6 separate regions of the Homo sapiens genome follow, and all the other regions are linked to region 1. Evidence: fine-mapped expression QTL. A gene starts in region 1. Each other region holds a variant in brackets. All regions are shown on one strand. Distances are between the middles of the regions.

Evidence for each region.
Region 2: its variant is fine-mapped to the expression of ITGA6 in whole blood (INTERVAL, PIP above 0.99).
Region 3: its variant is fine-mapped to the expression of ITGA6 in whole blood (TOPMed, PIP above 0.99).
Region 4: its variant is fine-mapped to the expression of ITGA6 in whole blood (INTERVAL, PIP 0.98).
Region 5: its variant is fine-mapped to the expression of ITGA6 in whole blood (TOPMed, PIP above 0.99). The same link has a PIP of 0.9 or more in T cells and blood mononuclear cells.
Region 6: its variant is fine-mapped to the expression of ITGA6 in whole blood (TOPMed, PIP above 0.99).

Annotation. Positions count from the first base shown.
Region 1 is chr2:172,425,446-172,430,519 of GRCh38, reverse strand. It overlaps ITGA6 (integrin subunit alpha 6), which reads right to left and starts at 2,934. Exons shown (of 26, transcript NM_000210.4): 1 at 2,550-2,934. The coding sequence starts at 2,731. RefSeq lists enhancers at 1-197, 1,622-2,122 and a silencer at 2,907-2,986.
Region 2 is chr2:172,677,024-172,682,097 of GRCh38, reverse strand. It overlaps a transcript of PDK1 not described here. Among named protein-coding and RNA genes, the nearest start is that of RAPGEF4, 56 kb to the left of the region's middle. The variant T/C (reference allele first, on the strand shown) is at 1,994.
Region 3 is chr2:172,361,090-172,366,163 of GRCh38, reverse strand. The region is part of intron 4 of LOC107985960 (a long non-coding RNA gene); the gene reads right to left. Among named protein-coding and RNA genes, the nearest start is that of ITGA6, 64 kb to the left of the region's middle. The variant G/A (reference allele first, on the strand shown) is at 2,959.
Region 4 is chr2:172,538,562-172,543,635 of GRCh38, reverse strand. All of the region lies in intron 1 of PDK1-AS1 (PDK1 and ITGA6 antisense RNA 1), which reads left to right. Among named protein-coding and RNA genes, the nearest start is that of PDK1, 15 kb to the left of the region's middle. The variant G/A (reference allele first, on the strand shown) is at 2,347.
Region 5 is chr2:172,221,342-172,226,415 of GRCh38, reverse strand. No RefSeq gene overlaps it. Among named protein-coding and RNA genes, the nearest start is that of DLX2-DT, 120 kb to the right of the region's middle. The variant T/G (reference allele first, on the strand shown) is at 2,672.
Region 6 is chr2:172,461,078-172,466,151 of GRCh38, reverse strand. ITGA6 (integrin subunit alpha 6) reads right to left here. Exons shown (of 26, transcript NM_000210.4): 2 at 489-613. ITGA6-AS1 (ITGA6 and PDK1 antisense RNA 1) reads left to right here and starts at 130. Exons shown (of 2, transcript NR_157573.1): 1 at 130-328; 2 at 1,578-1,890. It overlaps PDK1-AS1 (PDK1 and ITGA6 antisense RNA 1), which reads left to right. Exons shown (of 4, transcript NR_199657.1): 4 at 1,578-1,886. The variant G/A (reference allele first, on the strand shown) is at 2,836.

The DNA of each region.
Region 1 (5,074 bases):
ATCTGATATTTTACTTCTCCTTCCTCAAAGTCCTCTGTTCATTAAACTCACTTTTGTTATAAGTCTAATTAAGACCTATTAAAGTTAAGTTGCTTTGAACATGGGTTTCATAAATATGACTGAGTTTAAAATATCATTACCCAAAAACAACCACCTTTGGCTTTACTCTCAGGCAATCTTAGAATCACAGAATGTTTAAGACACCTTGTAAGGTACCTGACACACAGTAGGTACACAATTACTGCTTTTTAAATGATCATTAACAGCTACCATTTAGTCAGCAAGTACCCATGCCAGACAGGCATTAAGCACTTTGCATATTATCTCTTAATCCTCATAATAACCCCAGTAAGCAGTAATATCTCCATTTTACAGATAAAGAAATTAAAGCTCAAAGTAAATTAACAGCTGCTAATAAAAGGCCGAGAAGGAATCTCAGCTTAGGTCTCTCTCCCACCAGGTCCCTGAAAGACCCCCACTGAGTTTTTCCATAGAGTTTAGGAAGCTGGTCCAGAAGTTTTCTCAGTCTTACTGGCTCTGCCATTTACACCCACATTCTTTACTGTCAAAGGTTGACAACTGACCTGTGCTATGGCCTGTGTGTGCTGGTTCTCCTGGGAAGACCAATGCTATTCCTGAAGCTGGAATAAAGCTTTACAAAAGCATGGAGGTGGGCAGCACGTGACATAAACCACAGCCTCTTTAAAGTGTGGTCACTGCCTTTGGACTCTAGGAAACATACAGTCTCCTTATACGGGGCCTCTCCCCTCTGTCAGCTGCTAAGAAGAGCTTTCCTAGAAGGCATCAGACCCCATTGCAGGCTTATCCTTACCTCGGGAGGAGTTGCCTCAGCTCTAATACCAGAGAAGCCCAGCAGCAGTAACAAGTTTTAGCAAGCATGCTGCTAACCTTCACGACACAGATTCCTGGCAAAGTCACGTTTCGCAAATCTCCACTGCCAGGATATTTCTTGTCCCAGTACTTTCCCTTCACACTTTTTGCTTGAACAAGTATTTCAAGGAAGCCACCGGTTTCAGTGGGGCTCTGGTGCAGAGAGAGAATGCCCAGGAGAATGAATTCCCTCTGCTGGCCCACAATCATTTCTGCACTAACAAGCTCAAATTCTACACACCAAGTATTCCGAGACAATAAACGTCATCTATTAACTGAGTTAACAGGAACCTTTCATTTCAGATTTACAGCTTAACAACAATTATTTCTGAGAGAAAGCAGAGTATAAGCAGCTGGCCAGGCATATAGCCTCAGACCACCCTCCTAGAGCCTCCCCACCCCCAGCTAATTTCTGTGCTTCACCTAGCAGGTGTTATCAGAAAAAAAAAAAAACTGACTAAAATTCAGGGGCTGCAACATTCACGAATTCCAAAGTTGTTAACCGCTGAAATCAAGAGGTTTCCTCCAGTTCTAAAATCCCATTCGCCTCTCCTAAACACAAAATCTCTTCACTGTGGCTGCACTTTGCTTTCTCCGGTCTGTTGGTCCTGGAAGGTCCTTAGTTCAACTCAAGGCCTGGGTGGGGAGGGGAGACCTTTTGTTGCTACAGCCTATTTTTCAGTAGCACAGATGAAGAATGCAACCCCATAGCGATTAAGGCGACTAAGCGCCAAAATACCCTCTCCGGCTTAAATAGCCGATCATGTGGGAACCAAACACTGTTTAAGAAATAAAAGGAGAGGCCAGTAGTGCCGGTCTCCTCTTTCTCCTGGGAGGTTTACCGCTACGGTGGGGGGTTGTCCCTTACAAACCTTGTTTGCAAAGTCCAGGCTCAGATCGGACATTTTGCTTTAACCCCTTGGCTGTGCCCGCCCAACGCAGGAGCCGAGCGGGTCTCGGGTGCGGCCGAGTACTTTGGGGGCTGGGCACATCACTCAGACTTGTTTTCTCAGCTGATCTAGTCCAGCGAACAGGTGTTTGGTTAATTCCCGCCCCCACCCCCATCTTTTTTTTTTTTTTTTTCAAAGGCATGTAAAAGTATCTCCTAAGGAGCGCCCCCGCCTTGCTGAGAAAGTCATGCAGGACACATGGAAAGTGGCTTTCCAACTTGTGCGGGGCGCGCCAGTCTGCGGGGGAGACGGGGTGCACCGTGAGTTTGGGAAAGGCCTAGACCATCCTGGAACTACGCTCCCTGCAAACCCACAGCAGCGCTGCGGTGACCCTGAACGCCACCCCAGCCCCAAACACACACGTGAAGCTCAGCAAAGCGTGCCACCTGCCGGGGTCCCAGCAAACACGCCCGGAGGGAAGAACCGGCGGAAAGCACTTTGTTTAAAACAGAAAAAAAAGTAAACTCTCCCGGGGCCCAGCCTAGCCCTCGGGTTCTCCTCCTTCCCGAGCTGAATGGAGGGAGGCGCCGCGCGGGGCGGGTCAGGGCGGGGAGCCGAGCGCGCTGGGCGCTGGGTGCGCCTCGGCCGGCCCGGGCGCGACCCACGGGCCAACTACTCCCCGGGGCCGGCGGGAACAGGGCGCGCCCTCGCCTCAACTCGCGCGCAGGCCGGCGCCCCAGTGGGGGTGGGAAGGGTCTGGGAACTCACAGCCGCTTGTCCTCGGGCTGCAGTTGCCAGTGCATGGCCAGCGAGAAGCCGAAGAGGCTCCCGGGGTCTCCATATTTCCGGATCACGTTGTCCTCCCGAGTGTCCAAGTTGAAGGCTGCGCCGAGCCGGGACAGGAGCCCCGCCGACAGGTAGAGCAAGCACAGCTGCCCGGCGGCGGCCATGGGCGGACGCACGGGGAGGGGAGCGGGGACCTGCAGCGGCCGCCCTGCGCTCCGGGCTGGGTCCGAGGCTGCCGCGCTGCTGCTACCGCAGCCACCTTCGCCTCCTCTCGCCGCTGCGCCCGGCCCCACCCCCGGGACGGGTCGCGCTCTCCGTCCGGCCGCTCCCCCTCGCGGGCAGCTCGCGACCGCTGAATGAGCCCGTTGTTCTCTGGAGACTCGCAGGCGTTTTATCAAGTGACGAGGACGCCGGCCCCGCCCCTCCCCACCCTCTCGCCCCTCCTTGCGCGCCCGCGGCCCGGCGCACCGCCCGCACCTTACCCGCCGGCTCTGGCGTCTCCAGCTGCCCGGTACCTGCCCGGAAGCCACGACGTGGGAGCCCCGGAGGCGAGCTCGCGGCGAAGCAGCCCCACTGCGCCGCCCTCTGTGGACAGAATTGTGGTTGCCGAGTAGCACAGAGCGAGGGAGACTTTACTACCCGTTATAAAGAGAAGTGCAGGTGATGCACCGGGCCTCATGGCCTGAGCAGCCTGTTCTTGCAGATGTGGGCCCACGTGCAGATGCATACGTCATTCATTCATTTCTACAGGTGTTTATGGAGCGCTTAAGGCGTGCCCAACACTTGGGGACTACAGCTGTGTAGACTGTTCTGGGTCCTCAAACACCTAACAACCCTCAAAAATGATCACAGCGCACACCTTGATAGTGCTGTATAATGTACACAACCCAGCCATTACCTCAATTCATCCTAACAGTCCTATGAGGTAGGTGTTTCTTTTTGCAGATCAGAAAACCGAAGTTCCGCCTTGTCCCCAGATCACCTAGGATTTTGCCCAGGTGACCAGGAGAGCTTGTGGAAGAAGTCACGCAAGTCAAGGATGGGTTGTTTAAAGTGGCGCCAGGAGCTCAGGCGACGATGCCGTTCTTTCCTAGCCCCGGACTTTCAGAACTAGTTGTGGGGAGAACTGCTGGGCCAAGAGACAGCTCCGAGTTCTGTGTAGGTGGCATGAAGGCTCCTGCCTCCAGGACATGAGGCGGGGCTCCAGTGAGGTGTTGGCCCTAGGGGCAACCTTATCCTGCAGGGGTTCTTAACCCGAGGAGAGGTAATTAATTCAAGAGTACTGTGAACTTGGATGAGAAAAAATTTACGTCTTAATTTTCACCAACCTCTGACATTTAGCACGTTTTGCCATTATGAACGTAGACAACAAACTACAGTAGCAGTAGGATAAGTATTTATGACTTAGTAATCACTAGAAACCATAGGTTTTTACATCACATCACAGTTGTTGCAAGTATCTCAAATAACAGTAGTTATTAGACAATCAGCCAGATATTATATGTCAATAATGAAGCATATATATTGCTCTAGCACAAATTTTTAAAAACATTTTGTTAGCTACATTTCAATATTATTGGCTTTTTTTGTAACCTCTTGTGGTTTCTTTTATGTATTTAAAACCCTTATTCTGAGAAGAACCCCATGGTTTTCAGCAGCCTGCCAAAGGGGTCCCATGGCATGAAAAGGTTGGGACGTGCTGGCCTGAAGCCTTCTGGAATGCCTTGGGGAGCCCTCTTTGGAATCTGACATCCCTGCATTGGAAATACAAGCAGGGTGCAGCCCCAGGAAAGAGCAGGAGCTGTGTGTGCATAGGGGTAGGGGTGGCCTCTTCTTCACCTCAAGGAGTATTCAAGAGAACAGCATGTGCCACTCAGAAAAGCTGCGTGAACATCATCAAGGGTCCCCACAGGTGGTAGCAGCTGTCAGAGTAAGTCCGTCAGTATATTAGGGGTGTGTACCACTTCCTTTCCAATCAGTAACTCCAGTCAATTATAGTCCAAAGTGGGGTGCAGTGGTTTAAATTCAGTAGATGATTTTGGAGAGCACACAGTTTTAACAAATATATCTTGATAAGGTTGAGAAACTATTGGAGACAATCTAGTAAACTAAGAAGTACTTGCAACGTGATTTTTCATGCAAATAAGTTGCAAGTTAGCCTTTTCCCTTCGTGTAAAATATGTACTATTCCAGAGAGATGGGGTCCAGACTATTATAGGCATAGTATAATGAACCTCACTGCAGAGTGTACTCAGCCAGGAGCTGGTGATTTGGCTGTAATGGTTACTGAAATATTCTGAATTGGTTGATAAAAGCTGCTGCCCTTAGTTCCTCACAGGCAACCATCCCTGCCCTGCCCATTTTCCTAGGACTAAGCAACTTCCTCACAACCTGGCAAATGAAAGTTTAAGCCCTTAAGCCCTGATGCAGCAAGGGCTCCCTCTGCTTGGATATCCCCATGTCACACCAGCTGTTAACTATTCTGAATATCACCCCTTGCTTCTAAG
Region 2 (5,074 bases), 250 kb before region 1:
AGGCCTACATCGACTTGCTCATTTAAAATTGTAATTCCTGGCTGGGCGTGGTGGCTCACGCCTTTAATCCCCAGCACTTTGGAAGGCCGAGGTGGACAGATCACTGGAGGTCAGTGGTTCAAGACCAGCCTGGCCAACATGGTGAAATCCTGTCTCTACTAAAAATACAAAAATTAGCCGGGTGTGGTGGCGGGTGCCTGTAGTCCCATCTATCAGGAGTTTGAGGCTTGAGAATCGCTTGAACCTGGGAGATGGAAGTTGCAGTGAGCAGAGATCGTACCACTCCACTCCAATCTGGGCAACAGACTGAGACTCCATAAAAAATAATAATAACTAATAGATAAAATTGCAATTCCCCACCTTGCCCACTTACACTCCTCATGCCCATTACCCTGATTTTCCTTTTGTATACCATTAATCACCTCTGAACATGTATAATTTACTTATTTATTATGTGTATTGTCTATCTTCCGCAACTAGAACATCATGTCTACTTTACATACTGTTGTTTCCCCAGCACTTAGAATAATGTCTGGCCCCATAATAGGTGCTCAATGAATATTTGTTGAATGAATGAATGACAGAAGCTGAGAGAAGTACTCAATGCACGTAGGTGCTGATAACTCATTTTCTATCTCATGGTTAGGAAGGACTGCCTCTCAGCTGCATGCCAAGTCTCACAAGGGAATTAGAAAAGAGAACACTAATTAACTGGCACAAGTCTATCCCCACTGCAAAAACAAAATTCAAAATTAAATAATAAAGCTCCATAATGTGCATGTCCACTATTAGTGATCAGAATTATCAACTTCACTGGGACTGGGGCGGCATTATGTAATAATACGGATTTTGTCCCTGGTTCAGAGCATCGCTTAACTTCTTTTCACTCCTTTCCTCTGTGGGCACAACTTTCGTTCCCAATAAATTAAATACAGTGCCTAGTTTAAATGATTGCTACCAAACTGTTCCCAAAGAGAAAGAAAAACTCTCAGAGTTATTACAGTCCAAAACAAGAGAGATCACAATATCTAGCAGCACACAACAGCTCAGAAATAAGCCAGATGTACTAAGCCTGTTGCCAGGTGAAAGATGGAGTATAGTTTCTTGCCATAATTTATACTTCCCCTGAGTTGCTTCATAGGCTAAGGAATGAGCCAACAGTCACTAAAAAGAAAGAGAAGTGTCAAAGCCTGATGGCAATCCCAGGTTTTTCCTTTGTCTAATTGGCCCAGGCCCTCTGTAGCTGCTTTTGAGATCTGCCTTAAGCTCTCTGTTGCCTGTAAGCTGTCACAATACCCATTGTCTTATTCCCTTTGGACTAGAGAGCTTTGACCAGTTGCCAAATTCAGAATTTATTGTTGGAGTCAAGTTTTCAATGAGTGCACATTGTTTCCAGACAGGTTCCTGTAGACATAAAGTAAAAAAGAATAGGGCCAGCCACGATAGCACACATCTATAATCCCAGCACTTTGGGAGGCTGAGGGAGAGAAGTGCTTGAAGCCTGGAGTTCAAGACCAGCCTGGTCAACATAGCTAGACCCCGTCTCTACCACAAAAAATAAATAAATAAATAAATAAAAATTAGTGGGCATGGTGGTGCATGCCTGTACCCTCAGCTATTCCAAAGGCTGAGGTGGGAGGATCACTTGAGCCCAGGAGTTCAAGGCTGCAGTGAGCTATGATCACGCTACTGCACTCCAGCCTAGGCAGCAGAGTGAGACCTTGTCTCTATTTAAAAAAGAAAAGAAAAGAAAGAAAGAAAGGATAGTACAATTCATTTATTCAGTAAATATTGATTGAGCATCCACTATGCCCAAATACTGAACCTAGGGCATTCAATGATGAACAAAATAGAATGGCCCCTTCCGAGAGCTTGCAATTCAGGAAAAATTCTGGCAAGTAAACAATTACTAATATGCAATTGTGATAAAGACTGTGACAGAGCATGCAAGGAAGAAGCACCTGGCTGGAATTTGGTATATTAGGGGTTGAAC[T/C]TGGGGGTCAAGAAAAGTTTTACAATATAACTCTACTAAGAAAAATGGACCTGATATAAGTTTTCTCTTAAGCATTGAGGGGAAAATGGTTTCAAATTAAGAAGACTGGTTTTGGTATTTCTTGTGTCTCTGAAATAGGGTCTTGTGTCTGTTTTGACAGATAATTCTACTTAAAGAAATAAAAAATAAAAAACCTAAGTTTAGGTGTGCTCTAAATGAAGAGGCTAAAAAAAACCCAAAACCCTAAGGTTAGAGATTTAACCTGTGTTCGACCTGGTTTCCAATAGCTAGATCTGCTGAGTTATTACCTTCTTTTCTTTCTTGTTTCTGTTTTGCTTCCATTCTTTTTTTTTCTTTCTCTCCCCATTTTTTTCCATTATAACTTCAATTTAGAGGATACATGTTAATATACAATAAGCTACAATTTCACAATCTATTGGGCCTATTTTACTGCAAATACTCTGAACAAGTTGTTCACCCTATGATGGTCATCACTGATCCAAACCCTCCTCAAAACTATAGTACATTAGGCTATAAAAATGTTTTCCAAAAGAAAATGCTTCCAGTTCTTTCTTTCTTCAAGACTTCATGACTTCATCTTGTTGCTCAAATAACAATGAAAAATAAAATATTCTTTTGTTGTTGTTGTTGTTGTTAAGAGACAGAGTCTTGCCCTGTTGCCCAGGCTGGATGACAATAGTGGCATCATAGCTCACTGCAGCCTCAAACTCCTGGGCTTCAGTGATCCTCCTGCCACAGCTTCCCAAGCAGCTGGGAATACAAGTGCATGTCACCACACCTGACCAATCTTTAAAAAAAAATTTAGAGACAGGGTCTCACTATGTTGCCCAGGCTAGTCTTGAACTCCTAGCTTCAAGCAATCATCCCATCTCAGGCTCCCAAGTCATTGGATTTATAGGCATGAGTCATCATGCTTGGCTTAAAATTTTCTTTGAGAATAAAAATTTAGGGAAGTTTCAAACTAATGAGCATCAAGTCAGCAGTAAAAAACATACCATTATCCCTAAAGGCACACATTACAGGCTATATTTCTGAATGTTCAATTATTATTGCTTTAGGTACCATTGTCTTAAAGAAATCTCTGCGACAGAGTCAACATCATACACTCTAAGCTCTAGAGCTATATTTTGTAAAAACAAAAAAGGTTTCCCTGCTTCACTTTGCCTGCGGACCCCCTTCTGATGAACTCCACTCAGGGTAAGCCTGGTAAGCCATTACACCTGTACTTGGAAATATCATCTGATAAACCTGGTTTCTCAAAGGTTTTTCTGCCTTTGAAAATGCTACTGAATGTTGCTTTTATTCATTAACAAATAACTAATAAGCATCTACTTTGTGCCAAGGCCCTATTTCAGAGACAAAGAGGACCTAGTACTTATTGTCCCTCCAGTGGCACCTTTCTTAAATTGGGGAAAGAATCAAATACATAGTATAGGAAGTAAGTATTCCAGGAGTCCTTCTATATGGCCTCTTGCTATAAAAGGAACATTTTGGTTTATATCAAAAAGCATTAGGCAATGTTAATCTAATCTGTTCTAAAAAGTCAACTTTTAAGTTTATTTTAATATAATGCATAAGCATTATTTTAAATCAAATAGTACTAATAGACTGTTAAAAGCCAACAGTCTCCTGTCTTACTCTCTCCAACCACCAATCCCACTCCCTAGAGACTGCCACTTCCAACTGAATTACCTGTCTCATCTGGCATTTACCTCTACATTTAAAATAATATGCCTGTAATTTGGGTGACCATACATCTAGTTTGCCCATCAATTCCAATTTGTACCTGTTGTCTCAGAATAATTATAGCCAGTGGTCCCTTCACTCTCAGAAGTGTCTCTATGTGATTCATTACAGGATCGATAGACTTCCCTTTGTGGTTGAGCCCTCTGACTCCCTTTCTTTCTTTTTTTTGAGACGGAGTCTCCCTCTGTCACCCAGGCTGGAGTGCAGTGGTGCAATCTTGGCTCACTGCAACCTCCGTCTTCTGGGTTCAAGGGATTCTCCTGACTCAGCCTCCTGAGTAGCTGGGATTTACAGGCGCCCACCACCATGCCCGGCTAATTTTTGTATTTTTAGTACAGACAGGGTTTCACCATGTTGGCCAGGCTGGTCTCGAACTCCTGACCTAAGGTGATCCGCCTGCCTTGGCCTCCCAAAGTGCTGGGATTACAGGCGTGAGCTACCGCACCCGGCCTAATTTCCCTTTTATTCATCCTCCCAATGTAGCTATACAGTTTTGGATTAAATCCATAATCAATATTTACCTTATTTTGACCATCTAAGTATTATTCACTGCTAAGCCAAATAACTTCACTGTGATGTTTTCATTCTTGTATAAACTTTTGTTTTCTCTGAAGTTAACAACTGCCTCTTTTTAAGATGTTTAATTATTTGTGTACTTTTATTTTTCCCAAAATGCTTTAACAGAGCTGTGAAATGTCTAGGCAATAATTTTCCTAAGTGCTCAAACACTTCCAATTGTTATTTTCCCTTAACAGCCTTGTTCCTGGAGCCCTCTTCCTCTGGCTGCAATCCAGAGCAAGTTGCTGTCTGGACTTGTTGAAAAGCTGTTGTCCTGAGACTTCTCTTCAAATTCTAAGGAAAAATTTACTTTTTCTCAGGATTCTAAACCCAATCAAATAATCAAGTGTAAAGGCAAAATAGATACAAAATGTACCTTGCAAATACTCTAGGAAGCTACTGGAAGAAAGGCTTCAGCAAATAAAGGAAGTGTATGAAGAAAGAAAGAAGCATGGCACATTGCTACCTTAACTAATAAAAATCTCTGAACTTTCCGGTCCCATCTGAGGAAGCAAAAATGCTACTTGCTGCAAAAACGACACCATTTATCACACTGCAACAAAAGCAATGTATAGGCATGCCTTGGGGATATGTGAGTTTGATTCCAGACTACTTCAATAAAATGAATACTGCAATGAAGTCACACAATTTTTTTTGTTTCGCAGTGCATATAAAAGTTATATTTACTTTATACTGTAGTCTGTTAAGTATGCAGAAGCATTATGTATTTAAAAAACACTATACGTATCTTAATTT
Region 3 (5,074 bases), 64 kb after region 1:
AAGTTTGAATTGGCAATGCAGAAAGCTGGAAAAGGTGCATTGTGGTTCCTGAAGCTGCAGGAGTGAGGACCATGTCAAAGACATGGGGGCACCCAGGTGGAAGCACATGCCCACCTCCCATTTCCTAGGAGAAAACAAGTCAGATAGAACAGAGAAGGTGCACACAACCAGCTCTGGCACATTATAAAACTTTTGCCTCAGTTCTATTTTTTTCTGTGACCATGTAACGATCATAAAGATCTATCAGGATAGAAAGTCAAGTAAAACAAACTATGTGCCCTCTCAGCTGCCCAAATGTCTTAATCATGCTAGGCCTCTGCTTACACCGGCTCTCCTTCCAGCACCATCGATGCCACTCCAATCACATCAATCTCTTTACCGCCCCTCATCAAGCCATAGTTTCCCGTGTATTTTTCCCATTTGTGTGCACTGCTTCTTCTGCCTGGAATGCTTCTCCCTGCCTTTTCCACACCCCCAGGCCTCAACCAAAGTATTTTGTTTTTCTGAGAAATGTCTTCTGATGGTCCCTTTCACCTCTCCATTTCGGTCATTGTTTGCATGTAGCACGTACTGCTAGCTAGCCCCTAAAATCCATTCTCCCTGGCCGGGCGCCGTGGCTCACGCCTGTAATCCCAGCACTTTGGGAGGCCGAGGCAAGTGGATCATGAGGTCAAGAGATCGAGACCATCCTGGCCAACATGGTGAAACCCCGTCTCTACTAAAAGTACAAAAATTAGCAGGGCGTGGTGGCGGGCAACTGTAGTCCCAGCTACTCGGGAGGCTGAGGCAGGAGAATTGCTTGAACCCGGGACATGGAGGTTGCAGTGAGCCAAGATCACACCACTACACTCCAGCCTGGCAACAGAGCAAGACTCTGTCTCAGAAAATAAATAAATAAATAAATAAATAAATAAATAAATAAATAATCCATTCTCCCTGTTCTCCATAACAATGGGGAAGTAGCTAAATACATGGCCACCCTACCACAGACTGACTTTCCCACACCACCCCCACTCTCAGCTTGCAGCTCTGTGTGACCGTGTGGGGAACGTGAGCAGATGTGATTTGTGCCACTCCCACCTCACTGCATTGCTTTTCTGCTCTCTGTCCCCTTCCTGTGAGCTGGAACATGGATGTATTATGAAACCCAGTGCTCACCATTGCATCAGTGAGCTAGCACTAGGTAACAAGCCACCCTAAAACCCAGGCTTAAAACAAGAATCATTTCTTCTCTTGGAGAGTTGGCTAAGTGCCTTTGCTTCAAGCTATGGGTCTGGCAGGGCCTGACTCTTGCTGGGGTTGAGTTCTGATCTGTTCCACAAGTGTTCATTTTGAGACCCAAGCTGAAGGGGCAGCAGCTACCTAGGGCAACTTCTTACTGTGATGGCAGGGATGGCAGAGGGTGAGCCTAGCTGTGCAGGCACATGTCAAAATTCTGCTTGAGCCACACTTGCTCCCAACCTTGCCTTGGCCGAAGCAAGTCACATGGTGGAGGCCAAATTCAAGAGGAGGAGCACAAAACATCTTTTATAGAGGTTTAGGGGAGGAAATAACTATTTTTGAGCAATAATCTAATCTACCTCAGTCATGCAGAGAAGGACAAAGTCTTTGGGTGGAAGGGGAGCAATATGGATTCCTCAATGACTGTGTACGCCATCCTGCCTACCCACCCTCACTGTTAGGCAAGATAAATGAATTCATTGTTTCTTTAAGCCACAGAATTGTTGGGTCTGTTTGTTAAAGCTGCTTAGCCTTTTACCCTGAGGAATGTAACATGGTTTCCACTATAGCACATATTATTTGTTCTTTCTTTGGTTTGTTTTTCTTTTCCTAGTAGAAGTTTTTTGCTTGTTTTTTTTTTTTTTTTTTTTTTTTGTATGCTTGTTTGTTTTTGAGATAGGGTCTTGCTGTCGCCCAGGCTGAAGTGCAGTGGCACAATCAGGGCTCACTGCATCATCAACTTCCCCTGCTCAAGTGATCCTCCCACTTCAGCCTCCCAAGTAGCTGTGACTACAGGCATGTGCCACCACACCCAGCGATTTTTTTATTTTAGTAGAGATGAGGTCTTGCTATGTTGCCCATGCTGGTCTCAAACTCCTGAGCTCAGACAATCCTCCTGACTCAGTCTCCCAAAGTGCTGGGATTACAGGCATGAGCCACCATGCCTCGCCAGAAATTCCTTGAAATCAACAATTACGTCTTAATTAATTTTTGAATCCCTAGACCTACCATAGGATCTATTGTAGAGTGAGTGAATATTCAGTGAAAGTTTGCTAACTGATCAAATGAATTTCCTATTTTCTATTACTTTCACTTGGAAATAAATATGTGTTTAAAAAAGCGTTGCTTGCCGTAGTTATGAAAATAACAAAAGCACATTACAGGACCTAGATCATGGGTATCCAACATTTTGGCTTTCCTGGACCACATTGGAAGCAGAAGAATTGTCTTGGGCCACACATAAAATATGCTAACACTAACAATAGCTGACATGCATAAATAAATAAATACATAAATACATAAATAAAATAATTGGCTGGGTGCGGTAGCTCACACCTGTAATCCCAGCACTTTGGGAGGCCAAGGTGGGCAGATTACCTGAGTTCAGGAGTTTTAGACCAGTCTGGCCAACATGGTGAAACCCCATCTCCATTAAAAATACAAAAATTAGCTGGGCATGGTGGCGTGTGCCTACAGTCCCAGTACTTGGGAGGCTGAAACAGGAGAATTGCTTGAACCCCAGAGGCAGAGGTTGCAGTGAGCTGAGATTGTGCCACTGCACTCCAGCCTGGGTGACAGAGCAAGACTCTGTGCGTAATTTTCGTGATTTCCTCCACAGAAATAAGCAAAAAATCCTTGCCTTCAAAGGGTTGGACATGGTTGCCCTAGATGCTAACTTCCTCAAAATGTATAGATGATATGCAGATATGTGATTCCTCACAAGGAAAGCGGCTTCAG[G/A]AGGACATTCATTCATTTATCTAGTCATTGCATAAATACTTACTTAGTGCCTACCCTAAGCCTGGCACCAATCTAGGATGAGGACGGATATAGCAGTGAACAACCAAGACTCCTCAGGAAGCTCACATTTTAGGGGAGAAAGAGAGAGATGATAAATACATAAGTGAAAGATCAAGCAGACTGAATGGAGGTGTCAGAGAATTGGGGAAGGATGGAACTCTCAGTGATGATAACATTTGAACAAAGACCTAAGGAGGTGATGGAACCATATATTGCTATCTGAGAGAGAGCTTCTGGATAGATGGACTGTCAAGTATAGAAGCCCCGGGTGGGAGCCACCCTAGTTGTGTTCAAGAAACAGCGAGGATGCTACTACGGCTGGAGCACACAAGGGGGAGAGTGGTAGAAAATGTCCTTGGATATTGAATTTAGCAAAGAAGGCAGAAAAAGCCCAAATAGGTTTGACCAGCTAGGGGATTCTTAACACGTATTTAGTCAATGAACATTCAAACAACAGGTTTCTGTGGCTGTCCATGGTTGTGAAATCCATAGTGTTGAAGTAGTACTTGTCTTTGCCTAAGTGTCTTTGTGACAGTGTCTTTGTGCAGTGCTCAGGAATCAGGTGCCCATAGCTTAAACCCATTGATATCCTTGGGTTCAGCTGGGTGCAGTGGCTCAGGCCTGTAATCCCAGCACCTTGGGAGGCTGAGGCGGGTGGATCACCTGAGGTCAGGAGTTCGAGACCAGCCTGGCCAACATTGTGATACCCTGCCTCTACTAAAAATACAAAAATTAGCCGGGCATGGTGGTGGGCGCCTGTAGTCCCAGCTACTCAGGAGGCTGAGGCAGGAGAATTGCTTGAACCTGGGAGGTGGAGGTGGCAGTGAGCAGAGATCATGCCATTGCACTCCAGCCTGGGTGACAGAGCAAGACTCTGTCTCAAAAAAAAAAAAAAAAAAAAGATAGCCTCAAGTTCATTTGTCCACGCTCCTTCTCCAAAAGATAAGTTGGGAAAATTAATATCAATTCTCAATCAACATCAAGTTCAAGATGATCTTTGAGGTGTAGTTTTCAGCAGATTAATGACAGGCATTCCCGCCTCTTCCCCATCGCTAGGAGCTAGATGGCACTGAACAGGAGAGATGGGATATTAGCATATTCCCAGCTGCCTCTCTGCGAATCTGTATTGGCCACACATGTCTTCACTTAGTTTCAAGCCCACGTGCCCCTCTCTGCCCCACCCTTGCTCCCACCCCATTCTTTTTCCTTTTCAAAGAAAAGCCATAGCCATGTTATAATTGTTGCTTTTCTGTTGGAGAAGCGATATTATAGATTGGGTAGAAAATGTTCAAACAGAATTTAAAAAATTGAAAGCTTCTGAACATACTGTCTTAACACAGCCTCTTGAGACCTATTAACTGACTAGAAAGGAAGGAAATTAGCAATGGGAAGGTGGAGTTGAGTGCAGTTTCTCCTGCCTTTTTATATATTCTAGATGGAATTGCTGGGATAATAAAAGTTAAATATTCTAGGGTAATTGCCATTCCAGTCAATCCTATAAAAATATCATCAGAACTAGGGTTCTGACGTTGTTCCAGATATGGTAAATACCAGAACAGAGGAGGAATTTGGGAAAGGGTGAGCACGCCCTTTGCTGGATTTTGACCTGTTTGTTATCTGTTGTTATGGATTCTTCAGTGTTCAAATCAGTCTTTCGACTCAGAACTCTGAATCACAGGTCTCTAGATTCCCCAAAGAGAAACAGCCCCATTCCTTGTGATGTATTAGCCTAGTAAATTATAATTTTATTTGTTCTATTAAGCAGCTGAAGTTCAGCACATTTTTATTCATTTTGTACAATAGGCATTAAATGATTCTGAATGCCAGGCACCTAATCAGATTAAGAAAATCTTCATGTTGGCCAAAGGTTTATGCTTTTATACTGCAGTAAATTCCCCCATCATCTAATTCTTTCTACTCTACCCCAGCTCAGGGAAGACAGCAAAGCAACCCAAGGCTTTCAGAGACGCCTCCTCATACAAGGCCTTATCAGGTGCTCCCCTCTCCTCTCCAATCTTTCATATTGCTAGTGAGGGTAGGAGAATGGGCCCAGTTA
Region 4 (5,074 bases), 110 kb before region 1:
GTTGAAAAAGAGCCTAAATGCTCTCTAATTTGGGATAAAGAAAAAGGAGCATTAACCTTGATTGTGCCTTTAGCTCCAGCCACCTTTTTAAGAGGAAATTGCTGGGCAGGTGGGGGAGGGCTAGTCTCAGAACGAAACTGTGAGCCGGACCTGGTGTGAGGAGGGGAGGTGATAAAAAGGATAATAGGGTGGAGGAGCAGAGGCTGAGGAAGAATTGGGACCTAGCTCAGCCTGGCGAGGAGGGGAGAGGTCAGATGGGTCTGTAGAAAAGGAATATTAGAAAGACTCAGCGATGCTTGGGGTTGGGACTAAGGGGACAGGCGGGAGAGAAAGAAGGAAGATTTGGGACAAGTTGCATTGGGAACAGAAACTAGGGAGGGACCGACGTGTAAAAGAATGCCTGGACGTCAGGCACCTCAGACCGTTTGCCTATTTTACGGCAAGAATTATTTAGATCTCATAGGATGGAAAAATTGAAAGTGCTATTTTCTCGCTATTTGGAACCACTGTTGAGTTTGTATTGGGTCAAGTGGCATTGCAGAAGGAAATAAGGCATTTAGGTTTTAGGTCAGGTGTTTGTTGAAGAGGTTTTAGGTTTTTAAGAACACAGGCTAAGGGAGAAGAAGGGGGAATGGAGGGTGGAAGCTTGCCCATAGTGAAGGAGGCAAGCCCAGAGAAAAGAGAGAGTAGAGACACGGAGAGAAGGGGTGGGGGGTTCTTGACCCCCAGAAAAGCAGAGAAGGGGTAAAGACAGAGAGAAGGGGTCGGGGGGTTCCTGCCCCCTAGAAAAGCAGTACTTGCCACTAAGAGTGAAGGAGAAGGGGTTGAGGGGTTCTTGCCCCCTAGAAAAGTGGTACTTGCTGCTAAGGGTGAAGGAGAAGGGGTTGGGGGGTTCTTGCCCGCCAGAAAAGTGGAGAAGGGGTAGAGACACGGAGAGAAGGGGTTGGGGGGTTCTTGCCCCCCAGAAAAGCGGTACTTGCTGCTAAGGGTGACGGACCAAGGCAGGCGTCCCTGCATGGTCAGACACCTCTGAAACTTAGGTGAATAATCAGGCAGGCGTCTCCGCGTGATTAAACACCAAGAGAAGACTGTCTTCCCCAGTCCTTGACTGGCGCCGGAGTTTTGGGTCCACGGATAAAACGTGTCTCCTTCATCTCTACCAGAAAAGGAAAGGAACTGAAATTAAGAGAAGGGAGAGACTGAAGTGTGACGCCAAGATTTAAAGGAGAAAGAGGTTGAGGGATAGTGAGAGAGGTTGTAGAAGAGAGTAAAAAGAGGCCACTTACTGGATTTAAAATTGGTGAGATGTTCCTTGGGCTAGTTGGTCTGGGGACCAGAGGTCGTAGGTGGATCTTTCTCACAGAACAAAGAGCAGGAGGACAGGGGATTGATCTCCCAAGGGAGGTCCCCCGATCTGAGTCATGGCACCAAATTTCACTCACGTCCATGTGAAGAGACCACCAAACAGGCTTTGTGTGAGCAATAAAGCTTTTTAATCACCTGGGTGCAGGCGAGCTGAGTCCAAAAAGAGAGTCAGCCCAAAAATTTTTTTAAAAAGCAAAAACCTTTACTCATTTAGAGGGAAGACTTAGGTTTCCAAACAGTCTGTCTCTTGTATCTCCCTTCCTTTTTTTTTCAGTAGCTTATTTGCAAGACAAACAAAAGTCTTTCATTATCCTTTAATTATATTACGTGAAAATCTTGTTTAAGAGAGAGAAAGCCAAATTCCACCCTTACATTAGTCTTCTATTAATGTCAGCCTTAATTTTTAAAAAACGAAACCTTATAGGCTGGGGGTGGTGCCTCACACCTGTAATCTCAGCACTTTGGGAGACAAAGGCAGGGGATCATTTGAGACCAGGAGTTCGAGAACAGCCTGGCCAACATGGACAGACCTTGTCTCTATTAAAAATGCAAAAATTAACTGGGCCTGGTGGTACCCACCTGTAATCCGAGCTACTCAGGAATCTGAGACAGGAGAATCACTTGAACCCAGTAGGCGGAGGTTGCAGTGAGATTGTACCACAACACTCCAGCCTGGGTAGTGACAGAGTGAGACTCTGCCTCAAAAACAACAACAAAAAACCTTATAGGTAATTCTATCAAATCTTAACCTGTTCATCTGTCAGGTGAGATTCTTATAAACCATTTTTTTTTTTTTTTTTTTGAGACAGAGTCTCGATCTGTTGCCCAGGCTGGAGTGCGGTGGCACGATCTCAGCTCACTACAACCTCCGCCTCCCTGGTTCAAGCAGTTCTTCTACCTCAGCCTCTTGAGTAGCTGGGATTACAGGCACCCACCACCATACTTGGCTAATTTTTGTATTTTTAGTAGAGATGGGGTTTC[G/A]CTGTGTTGGCCAGGCTGGTCTCGAACTCCTGACATGGGGTTGGGCGATCCGACCACCTCAGCCTCCCAAAGTGCTGGGATTACAGGCATGAGCCACTGCGCCCATCCTCTTATAAGCCTTTTATAACTCTTTACACATTTTTGTTAAAGAGCAGATCAGTGCCTTTAGAAAACCTTGTTTTCCTTTTATTCCCATGTTCTATTTGTGGAAAAACCAAATAATACTCTTGAATTTAGTCAATACATTTACACACAAGATTTCTTTTACAAAGTTAATTTTTACAGACCTTCCACAACTTGTTCAAACCTTTAATTTAAAACAATCCTTTAACCCTCTAGGCAAAAATTTACATTCCCATGCCTTCTTATAATCTTTTACTAAAAACATATTTTACTTTTCTCTTACACCTTCCATGTAAATCTATTTTCGGTAGCCTCCGTTACATGTTATAATGGTAACTCTTAGATATTTTTAGTGTTAATGTAAAACCTGGTTAGTTATTTTAATTATGTACTAGGCACAGGTAAGGTGTCTTTCCAGCATAGTTAGGGGTACAGTTAAATCCATATGTCCCCAGGCCTTAAACTGTAAAGCAGGCAAGTCTTAACAACTTTCAAAAGCCAAAGAAGCAGTTTTTGACCTTAAAGTATTTAGTAATCCAAGTATTTGACCTGCATAATTTAGACCACATATTTACATTTTGAAGACATTTGTCATATAACCTTTAAGACTTTTTTTATTTCTCAAAGATTAAAGTCACATGAACTAAAAGGGATTACAGCTTCTATTTTTTCTTTAAAAATATTTGATCTAAGTGCTTATTTTTACTTAATCCAATTAATTGGAGCTCTTTTTTATATAAACATCACATACATATCACATGCATAACTACACAGACAGAAGAAGATCCACTAGTTATAAGATTTTTTTTTTTTTTTGAGACACAGTCTTGCTGTGTCGCTCAGGCTGGGGAGCAGTGATGTGATCTCAGCTCACTGCAAACTCCACCTCCTGAGTTCAAGTGATTCTCCTGCCTCAGCCTTCTGAGTAGCTGAGATTACAGGCACCCATCACCATGTCTAGCTAATTTTTCTATTTTTAGTAGAGATGGGGTTTCACCGTGTTGGCCACGGTGGTCTCAGACTCCTGGCCTCAGGTGATCCACCCACCTCAGCCTCTGAAAGTTCCAGGATTACAGGTGTCAGCCACCTGGCCCTGACAGATTTTTCACTTGCCAATCTCCTAATTGGGTTACTGGACTCGGGTTGAGCTCTTCAAAAAACCGGTAGGAAAACATGCCGTTTCTAGGGCCTAATAAGTAGGTACAGCTTGAAGACAAAAACAGATTTTGAGAGGGATCTATCTGACTTTAATTATTAGTTAGAGTTCCCTGAGGAAAACATTTTTCCCAAAATGGGTTCTGTGGTGCCTTCTCTGTTTTTCCCAAGGAATCCCAGGCTATCAGAAATTATCTTAGGCTTCTCATGTGTGCATTAAGAGTGAAAAAAAAATTAAGTCAACTGAGAAGACAAAAACCTTTTTCCAACCAAACAAGATCCAAGAAGAGAAAAAAAAGACATAAAGGTGTTTTAAATATACCTATAGCTAGGATATCCAATTTTTTTTTGTTTCAGACAGAGTCTCACTCTGTTGCTCAGGCTGGAATGCAGTGGCACAATCTCAGCTCACTGCAACTTCTACCTCTTGAGTTCAAGAGGTAGCCTCCCAAGTAGCTTACATTACAGGTGCATGCCACCATGCCCAGCTAATTTTTTGTGTTTGTAGTAGAGACAGGATTTTGACATGTTGGCCAGGCTGGTCTTAAACTCCTGAGCTCATGCAATCTACCCGCCTCGGCCTCCCAAAGTGCTAGGATTACAGACGTGAGCCACCACACGCAGCCTCTCCACTTTTAATATAAGCTGACTTTTAACCATGGTGCTCTTTTAAAAAATATTTTCAAATCCCTTATTACTTGAGTTGGTCAAGCCGCCAATATTTCTGGCTTTTGAACTTTACCAAAAGCAACCTCACAGGTGAAACTAACAAACCTCAACTAAGGTTATGACTTAACCACAAGTATTATGAATTATTTTCAAAGAGATGTTAAGCAGTTTTTTAAAAATCTAGAATCTCTAAATGTGGCTCACAGAAAGGAAGATTTATTTATTTATTTATTTTTTATTTTTTATTGATTTATTTATTTATTTTTTTATTTATTTATTTTTTTATTGATCATTCCTGGGTGTTTCTCGCAGAGGGGGATTTGGCAGGGTCATAGGACAATAGTGGAGGGAAGGTCAGCAGATAAACAAGTGAACAAAGGTCTCTGGTTTTCCTAGACAGAGGACCCTGTGGCCTTCCGCAGTGTTTGTGTCCCTGGGTACTTGAGATTAGGGAGTGGTGATGACTCTTAAGGAGCATGCTGCCTTCAAGCATCTGTTTAACAAAGCACATCTTGCACCGCCCTTAATCCATTTAACCCTGAGTGGACACAGCACTTGTTTCAGAGAGCACAGGGTTGGGGATAAGGTCACAGATCAACAGGATCCCAAGGCAGAAGAATTTTTCTTAATACAGAACAAAATGAAAAGTCTCCCTTGTCTACTTCTTTCTACACAGACACGGCAACCATCCGATTTCTCAATCTTTTCCCCACCTTTCCCCCCTTTCTATTCCACAAAACCGCCATTGTCATCCTGGCCCGTTCTCAATGAGCTGTTGGGT
Region 5 (5,074 bases), 200 kb after region 1:
GTTTTCTGTTGCTGTGCAACAAGTTACCACAAACTTATTATCTCACAGTTCTGTAGGCCAGAAGTCCAGGCACAGAACAAGGTCGTCTGTTCACCTCTTATCTGGGGCTCAGAGTCCTTGCCTAAGCTCACTGGTTATTGGCAGAATTTATTTTCTTGTAAGACTGGGGTCCAGCTCTCAGCTCCCAGAGAGCTACCCACATCCATTGCCATGTGGCCTCTACCTTCAAATAAGCAATTCCATGCCAAATTCTTCTTTTGTTTCAAATCTCTGACTTTGTTTTTTGGAGCGAGCCAGAGAAAACTCTCTGCTTTTAGAGGGCTCATCAGATTAGGTCAAGTCCACCAGGATACTCTCCCTTTTACCATCGCATAGAATACAATCATAATATCATCATACTCACAGGTGCTTCCCACACTCAGGAAGAGCAGACTGCATACTGGGGTGGGTCATTGGGGGTCATCTGAGAATTCTGCCTGCCACAGCATGTAAACATTTATGGGAAAATAGTGTCTTCTCAACCATTGTTGTCAGCGGCCCCTAAGGGGCCATTGAGACATGAGGAAAACAAGGATACCTGACATCCTATAGTGGTCAAGGAAGAACCATCCTGGACAAATTATAGGGTCACAGGATGCTGAGAAACAGCAATTAAATGAAACAGAAAGAATCTTAATATTTAATAGAATGCCCAGAGCCCTTCTTTGAGTAACAAAAGATCCACTAAAGACTGGTGTAGCTCCTCTTTTATACTGGGAGATCCTTCCCCTACCCACAACCAGACCCAAGATAGAAATTAAATGGATAGGAACCAAATGCGAAGCCACATGATACAGGAAGCCCAGTAACTCCCTGAAACTGGACTAGATTCCTTGCTAAAGGAGGAACTGTTTCTTTTCTTAATGTAATTTCAGATTTAATTATTCACCAACCTCATCTCCAACTAGCATCTGTCCTTGGAAGATGCCTAAATTGAACAGGTCAACCAATGCAGGGATCAGACAGATTACTGTTCCCATTGGTGGCTCTACTAAGGGAAAACTTGACCTTGGGTTTTTCCTCTCGGATTTAGCACACTGTCATAAGGACTGGGGGATGGGGAGGCTGTCTTGAGGATGAGTTTTTCCTATGGAGGAAGAGAGATTTTGGTAAAGAGGGAGCAGAGAGCAGCAGCACAAGGTCCTTCCCACCTGGAGGCTTTTGAGCAATTGAGCAGGGTCTGGAAGGATGGGATGTTCCAGATAACACAGGGAGAAGACTAGCAATGAAGGGAAGGGGAGTAGCTTGAAAGGGCAGCAACAGTGGAGCAGGTGACTTCCTTAAAATGTGAAAGCTGGCCAGATGCAGTGGCTCACACCTGTAATCTCAGCACTTTGGGAGGCTGAGGCAGGAGGATCACTTGAGCCCAGAAGTTTGAGACCAGCCTGGGCAACACAAGGAGACCCTGTCTCTACAGAAAGTAAAAATAAATTACCCAGGCATGGTGGCACAGGCCTGTGGTCCTAGCTACTCCGGAGGCTGAGGTGGGAGAATCACTTGAGCCTGGGAGGTCAAAGCTACAGTGACCTGTGATCATGCCACTGCCCTCCAGCCTGGGTGACAAAGACAGACCTTGCCTCGAAAAAAATATTAAAAAATATAAAAGTTGGAAGCTGGAACTTGTGTGTAAGATGAGGACTCAGTGGAGAAGGAAAGAATGAAAACACCAGACTAAAGATACAGAGAAAAGGGACTCTGCAAGGTCCAAAAGAGGCGTGGTGGGAGGTGACAGAAGATACAGAGGAAAATATTAACTATGTAAAGAAGACGGACACTTCTACTCCTCAGATATGAGGAGGGGAGAGGAAATGGGTAAAAACAGAGATTTTCAGGTGGGTAGAAAGAAGGCCATCAGGTTAGGTGGCCTCACTCTTGGTAACTGGAAGACAAGGTCCGCTGACAGTGAAGGTTTGAAGATGTAAAGTAGATCTTACTCATTTAGAAAATACCCAATAGTTTTTCTTTTTTTTTTTTTTTTTTTTTTGAGACTGAGTCTTTCTCTGTCACCCAGGCTAGACTGCAATGGTGCGGTCTCAGCTCACTGCAATCTCCGCCTCCCGACTTCAAGCAATTCTCCTGCCACAGCCTCCCAAGTAGCTGGGACTACAGGCACCTACCACCATGCCCGGCTAATTTTTTTGTATTTTTAGTAGAGACGAGGTTTCACTATGTTGGCCAGGCTGGTCTCGAACTGCTGACCTCATGATCCGCCCACCTCGGCCTTCCAACGTGCTGGGATTACAGGCGTGAGCCACCGTGCCCGGCCCCAATATTTTTTCTAAATAAAGTTATTCCTGCTGTGGTGGTGGGCTGAGGTGGGGAAAATCTTTGGGAAATAAGATTAGAAATTAAAAGGAGCAAAAGCATCCATAACTAAGGAAAAGAACTAATGTTTGCTGAGTCATTAGCATTAAAACCATGGCATTCCTCCAAAAGGAACCAGAAATGGAACAGAAACGTTTCTTAAGGGCGCAGGTAAGAGAGGCACGAGGTAGCCAATGGTTCCAAGGTCCAGGATACTCACTCCTCTACCCCCAAGAACTTTCTGGGAGGAAACTGTGTCTTCTCAGTCGAAGTGGTGAGGGTAGCCCCCACCAGAACTTGACGGAAAGCTGGTTGTGTTTACCCAATT[T/G]TTCTTCCTGTGTGTCTGTAACCAGCCAGGTGTTTCTAGGAAGAGATCACAGTCTTTGGCCCATATTACCAGTACACTAGCTCAGCAAATTGCAGGGAGGGGCTGGTTGTCTTGCATTCACCTTTTGAAGGAAATGTTACAAGTTTTAGAGAAAAAACAGCCATTTAGTCTCTGGTAAATGCAAACATTTCCTAACATACCAAGGCTATCTGAAGAAAGTACAGAGCCTGGGGAAATTCTGCCTAATGAAATCAGTTTTTCCCAAGTGAGTAGCTATAGCAAAAGGAGGGCAAATATTTAGCCCCATTCTGGTCAATTATGATGTCCAGTGTCTTTTTTTTCTTTTCTTTTTTTTTTTTTCTTTCAGAGACAGGGTCTCGCCCTGTCGCCCAGGCTGGAGTGCAGTGGCATGATCATAATTCACTGCAACCTCAAACTCCTGGACTCAAGCAATCCTCCCGCCTCAACCTCCCAAGTAGCTAGGACTACAGGTGCCCACCACCATGTCTGGCTAATTATTAAATTTTTTACAGAGACAGGGTCTCACTATGTTGCCTAAGCTAGTCTCAAACTCCTGGCCTCAAGCAATCCTCTCACCTTGGCCTCACATAATGTTGGGGTTACAGGTGTGAGCCACTGTGCCCTGGCTAATTTCTGTTTTTGTAAAGAGAACATACAATCCTATCATCCCTAACACAACCCTTGGCCTTGAATCTTTAGTTCTGTCTGACAAACTAGGTCTTACTGCAGCTTTGAAATGGAGCTTTGGTTCTTATGCTTTTTTAACAGATCAAAGACACTTTCATTTAAATAATTTGGGTCAGCTGTGTATCATTCGGTGGGAATTGATGGGTAAAGATGGCATTTTTGCAAATGAATGGATAAACTTTTGATGCACTAAATTTATTTATTTTTTATTTTTCCACAGGTTATTGGGGGTACAGGTGGTATTTGGTTACTTAAGTTCTTTTTTTCTTTTTTCTTTTTTTTTTTTTTTTGAGACAGAGTCTCGCTCTGTTGCCCAGGCTGGAGTGCAGTGGCACGCTCTTGGCTCACTGCAATCTCTGCCTTCCGGGTTCAAATGATCCACCTGCCTCAGCCTCCCAAATAGCTGGAACCACAGGCAAGCACCACCCAGCCAATTATTGTATTTTTAGTAGAGACAGGGTTTTGCCATGTTGGCCAGGCTGATCTCGAACTCCTGACTTCAAGTGATCCACCCGCCTTGGCCTCCCAAAGTTCTGGGATTACAGGCATGAGCCACCGCGCACGGCCTGGATACACGAGTAAGTTCTTTAGTGGTGATTTGTGAGATTTTGGTGCACCCATCACCCAAGCAGTATACACTGCACCATATTGGTAGTCTTTTATCCCTCGCCCCCCTCCCATGCTTCCCAAGTCCCCAAAGTCCACTGTATCCTTCTTATGCCTTTGCGTCCTCATAGCTTAGCTCCCACATATCAGTGAGAACATAAGATGTTTGGTTTTCCATTCCTGAGTTACTTCACTTAGAATAATAGTCTCCAATCTCATCCAGATCACTGCAAATGCCATTAATTCATTCCTTTTTATGTTGATGCACTAAATTTAAAAAATGAGCTACATATGTGCAATGGTGTTATATATAACCAATAATGTTTGATATATTGTATGTATTATATAACCAATATTCTATATAACCAGTAATATTTGATATATTGTATGTATTTCAAATGAAAGTTGGTTATATCTGTCAAACCATGTAAAAAGGGTGATGTGCAACTTGAAGCAAGTGCCAAGATTTAGCAGACTACAACAAGATCAAACAGCAATTTAGAAAGAGAGAGATAGGAAGAAATATATTTTTGATGGATTCCATTTCTAAAGCCATCTAAGCAAAATCCAGGTCAACTTTTCACAAAACCGCACAGAAGGTAAGTCACATTGAGAGGCTGGCTGGCAGGCCTCTAACATACAGACATATATTATGGTTCAGGAATATTAAAGAAATGTACTACTCAGCAAGAATACCCATAACTCTCCTATAGATTAGAACATCAAACATATTTAAGGCCATTTGGACAGCTCAGAGCAAAATAAAAGAGAAATCCTGGTACCATCGGGCTTAGAGCTATCTTCCTTCTTCCAAACAAAAAGCATGGAAAAAGGAAAACTATTTCTCCTTTGTACTTTAGCCCTGGAGAAGACACTGATGTGGTTTGCTTCCCCCTTCCCTCCCCACATTGGGTTAGGTGGTTATGAAAAGCAGAGCTCACCTGGAAAGGTTGGCACTGCTTTGGCTCAGAGCCTGAGTGGAGGGCATGAGATGAGAGTGCCCACCAGAGCAGGAACAGGTGACCAGCCATTCCATTTGCTCAGGACTGGGGGGTTTCCTGGGACATGGAACTTAGTACTAGAACAAAG
Region 6 (5,074 bases), 36 kb before region 1:
ACCTATCCAGAGCCCTTAACAAAACAAGTCTCTATCTGAGACAGGAGGGAAAACTTTATCTCTGTTAGCCAGCTCTCATTCCAAAGGGGTCTGATATTTAAAACTGTCTTTCTCCCAAATATTTTAACAGCATGTGAGAACTTTTGGCTGATGAATACAAGATACGCTCATTCATTCTCTTCATTGCTATGAAATGAGTTTTTCCACAACCTCCTGCAGAACCTCAACACATCACTAGGTGGCAACATCCCTACACCATATCGGTTTAGAAACCACGGTTAGGAGGAGCAGCAAAACACGCGGCATCCCAGTATGATTCAGAAGTAAAGTAAGTAAATATTTTCAGGGCAAATAAAAAACAGTCAAGTCTGATGCAATTAAAAGAAGTCCTCTCTACAAGAATAAATGTTTGTCCCCACTCTCCTCCCTCATGGAAACAGTACAGGCAAGCTGCCGGAGTGAACGCTGAGTGAGGGAAAGGAACGCACCATCGTTATCAAACTCGATCCGCGTGCATGGCCCCCGGGCGGTGATGTCGCAGCTGTACAGCCCTCCCGTTCTGTTGGCTCTCTGCAGTGGAAGCGCTTCTGCCCGCGGGGCCCCCACGAGCAACCTGTTGATGAAACAGAGACAATTTGGAGATTTGAATTTAATATACGTTTAACAGTTAAATCAGTCAGAACTAGGAGATAGTGGGATTATTCTTTGTCTAGGAGTCCACTAATTCTTCAACAGCTTAGGCAGTGAGTGAGAACAAATGTAGAGTCCTATGGCTGGTTCATGCAAAACGCACAAACACAACTAAACAGGGGAAGCCAAAGAGGGGATACCAAAACGAGGAAAATAGGCCTGTCTCTCATAGTATCAGCATTTCTTGCTGGGTATGATCTGGTGTTTAAAAGACACCCTCTTCAAAGAATACAACCTCTAAGCCCCTATGATGCCAGGGATATCATATGAAACTCAAGAGAAGAAACCAAATACTTGTGACAATGGAAGGAAAAAATGGCCACACTAAATGTAATAAGCAATAATATGTCAGTTTCTAACACTGTGCCTTCCTGAGGTAGTTTTCAAGGGTAATTCTGACTATATCTTAGATTTTCAGTTTATATACTAATTGAGAGAACCTAATGGTAAGTAAGATACAACTCGACTGAATTATTCACTTGCAGCCTTGGCCTCTTTCCAATTCTTTTTTTTTTTTCCCTCCAGTTTTATTAGGGTAGAATGGACAAATAAAAAGCAGATATATTTGAGGTGTACAAGTTGATGTTTGTTCTTCCAAGTCAGTTCTTACTTCCTTGCACTTTTGTCACATTACAAGAGTTCGTCCTCTCTCATCCTATCAGTCTCCCACAAAGGATTCAGGGACAACTGGTGTAGCTCCACTTATGTACTAGGCACTGTAATATTCCTTCTTCTCCCCAGCCGAGTGTTTTTATCTCCTATAAGGAGGCCCCCAGTCCAAATCCACAGTCCTTAAAATTTCACCATCTCACAGCTTGACAGGCTCTTTAGAGATCCAATGACCTTGTTGCTAGGTCTCTTTTGCTAACACCTTTACTCACCATCAGGTTTACAATCTTTGAGGCCTGGCTGACTCATGGAACAACTAGGACAAGAAACAAAGACAAAGAACACACACCTGACTGGACAGAGATAAACCAAGAGCTGAGAGTTTTGGAAACAAGGCTGGAGCTGAGGAAAAGGACTGGGAACACGAACCTGTACAAACAACAAATTCTTACAACAGAAAACAAGCCACTCCTGGCCATCAAGAAACCCACAAATCTCAGAAGCAAAAGCAAAACAAATGAAAATACAAACCAAATAGTCTCTATTACCTTCATGCCTGTTGGGTCCCAATAAAGGAATCATTCCAATAAAGGATTCAACATATTTTTTTTAAACCAATATCATGCAGCAGGTGCCACCGGAGGCAAGTGTACCTGGAAAGCAGGGAGGGGGGCCAGATGATGCCCAGACAGAGAAGGAGGGGTGGCTCATGGATAACACATAGCCCCAGCACTGTCCTTCCTCCCAGATCCCTGGACAGTCACAGTCAGCCCCCACCTCCAAACCCACCCTACATTTGAAGGAACAAAACAGCACACACCAAGGTACAGAACTGACACACAGACTTTTAAATTAGGAACTGGAGCAGTGTCCTTGGTGCCTGAACCTTCTTGACAGAGGACAGAGGCAAGGCCGGGGCCACAAGGGTCCCCACAGGTCTGCTCCACTCCTATTCCAGTGATGTCCCCGATCCCAGGAATGCCAACAAACAAGTACCTGGGAGGTGAACTGCCTAGACTATAAGGTGAATGTGTTAAATTACTGTACTTGGCAGATGTCAGAGGTGGAGTCATGTGGAGGGTGCTGGAAGGGATAAGTGGGGTGCCAGGATCAGAGGCCCAGAACCCCAGGACTTTCACACTGGAAGCCCCTGAGAGAGACCAGTCCTCCAGTTTTACAGATAAAGAAACAGAGGCCTTGAGGAGCTTAATTACTCATCCCCCAAGATCTCACAGCTAGTGGGTGGCCATGACAAAAATTATCTTGGTGCAATGTTGTCTCCATTTCTTTACAAAGCTGCTTAGGAAGTAAAACCCAGGATTTCAAGTTTACAACCTAGTTGAAAGGGCAAAACTTACACAAATAAAACATCACAACCAAAACTGTTCTGTATGCTGATAAAAGTTAAGATAATAGAGCCAAGTAGAGGGGAAGGAAGAAAAGCATTATTGCAGTTGGGTGGAGTGAAGGCTGGGTAAGAGATTTCCTGTAAAGGTAACCACCAGCAAAGAGAAGCCTAGAAAAAGCAGCACAGGA[G/A]TCCCATTGTCTTAACTGTGTGTCTTCCTAACCACTTCCTCTTCTCACCCACACCCAAGGTGGCTACTAAGTTACCTAAGGCAGGCACAGGGCTTATTTCCTGTTTATCCCATTCCCACATTCGTTCACCTATTCACTCAACAAACGCTGATTAAGAGCCTCCTAGGATGAATAAGGAATTGCCCCCACTCCTCAATCTCTGGCCTGGGGAAGCCTGATCCGTGAACAGGTCATGAGGTCATGAAACCACAGGGAGCTAGAGGCAATGAGAGGATGGTACAGAGTGCTGTGGGCACCAGCACCTGCTGGAGAGGAAGGGAGGATGTCACTAAGAGATGACAGCGGGACTGGAGGTGGCCAGGTAAGGAACACAGCATATGCAAAGGCTGCAAGGGAAGGAGCCAGAGAAAAGGGAGAAGAGGGACACAATGGGTGACAAGAAGGGGTCGAGGATCAGCAGCCTGGTCAGCAGCGCTAAAGGACGAAGGGTCAGAGACCCTCTGAACCCCAGGCTTCTGTAGCCTGCTGTGTCCTGCAGGGTACAGCTGCTTTTGGGTGTCCTGTGGTTTAAAAAGCTGTGGAGGTTGTCCCATTTACATGCCCAGTCCCTCAGAGTGGGTTGGCTTCCCTCAGCCTCTATCTGCCACTTGTTCTCCACTCTCTGTAACTAATACGTGTGGGACAAAGAATAGGCATTTAACTCGAATTTGTTGGCTGGTTACAGGGGCTGTGGTGACAAAATTTCACAAATGCCCACACCAAGCTCTTGCAGAAGAGGTCCTCGTGTCTTACATGCGGCGGCTACTGCAGATGACAGCAGACCACATGGCAGGATGGGGGCAGCAGGCTGGTTTGGGGAAAAAGGACAACAGATTCGAAAAGAGACCTGCAAACGACAAGAGAAATGTACCCACAGAGAATAACGTTAGCTGTTGCACCGCCTCTGGGCGAGCTCAGCCTGCACATGGTCCTGGCACTGTCCTTCCTCCACCTCAGGTGGTCCCACAGGGGATGGAGGAAGCAGGAGTGTTCCACCGCCCCTTGCAAATCCCCTGGGCAGCCGTGGGAGGAAGAGCTGACACCCAGCAGCAGAGGGCGCCCCTGCTCCAGTTGCGCCCGGTCTCCTGGGACCCACCGCGATAAGGTGGCAGAACCCATCACCGAAAGGTAAGGTAAAGCTACACCTTGATGAGAGAACACAGTAACCCCAACCACATTCAGCAACTGGAGGCGCCTTCATCCTCAAGGTAAAGCTGCCCTCCCTGGTTTGGGAAACAAGCAAAGGCTCTTAATTCGCCTGGAACCAGCCTTAAAGGCAGGAGATCACAGCCCATTAGCTGAGGCTGTGCCTAGCAGGAACAATAAATAAGGTAAATAGAGCTGTGTCCAAACAATGACAGCAGAGAACAACCTATCTACTTCCTAATCTAGGTCATTTAGGGTCTGGGTGCTGGTCTAAGCTGTTCAGGACATGGTTGGCTCCTGAGCTAGCAGAGTGGGTACAGGTCCAGGAGGGACAGTCTACACCTAGGAGGACCCTCAGCCCACACAAAATCCAATTTATGCTCAAATTCCAGCTTTCTTCCCTTTCCCTCCAAGGCCCTTAAATGCCAAAAACTGGGCCCAGGCCACCCAGATGGTTCAGTGTGAAAAGCAGGTACTCTCTGGGCACTACCAGGATGCTCACAGCAACTCCTAGGACCAGGGCAGCTGCAGCACTCATTACTGACCATCCCAGTACGTTTGAAGGAGGAAAGAGCTATGTGACAACTCGACCTTCAGAGCCACAGGGACCAAGGGATATGAGTTAGGGCCTTTGTAGGGAGGTGATAGAAATTAACAGAGCAGAGCCTGAGAGGTCTATTCCCATATGCGGTCAAGGCAAGAAAAACTAAACAAAGGGCAAGAATCTGGGTGTGAACTAAGATCATTTCAAAACCGGCCAGTGGACAATGACCTCCACTGAATTTTAAAGCTGCACCGAAATAAAAACTGCCTTGGGATTTCAGCATATCAGAAACCCACACTTAAAAGGCAAAACTCAAAACCACAAAATCATCTTTAACGATAAGAAATAAACACTGAGATACTAAAATGGAATGTAAAAATCTAACGATATAAGTATAACAGTAACTGGGAATATGATATAAATTCAGGTCTTTGGAGTCTAATCAGAGCTCTGGGCACAGAGACTCAGGACTCACTATCATGCTATGAACACAAGGTTATTTCAAAATTC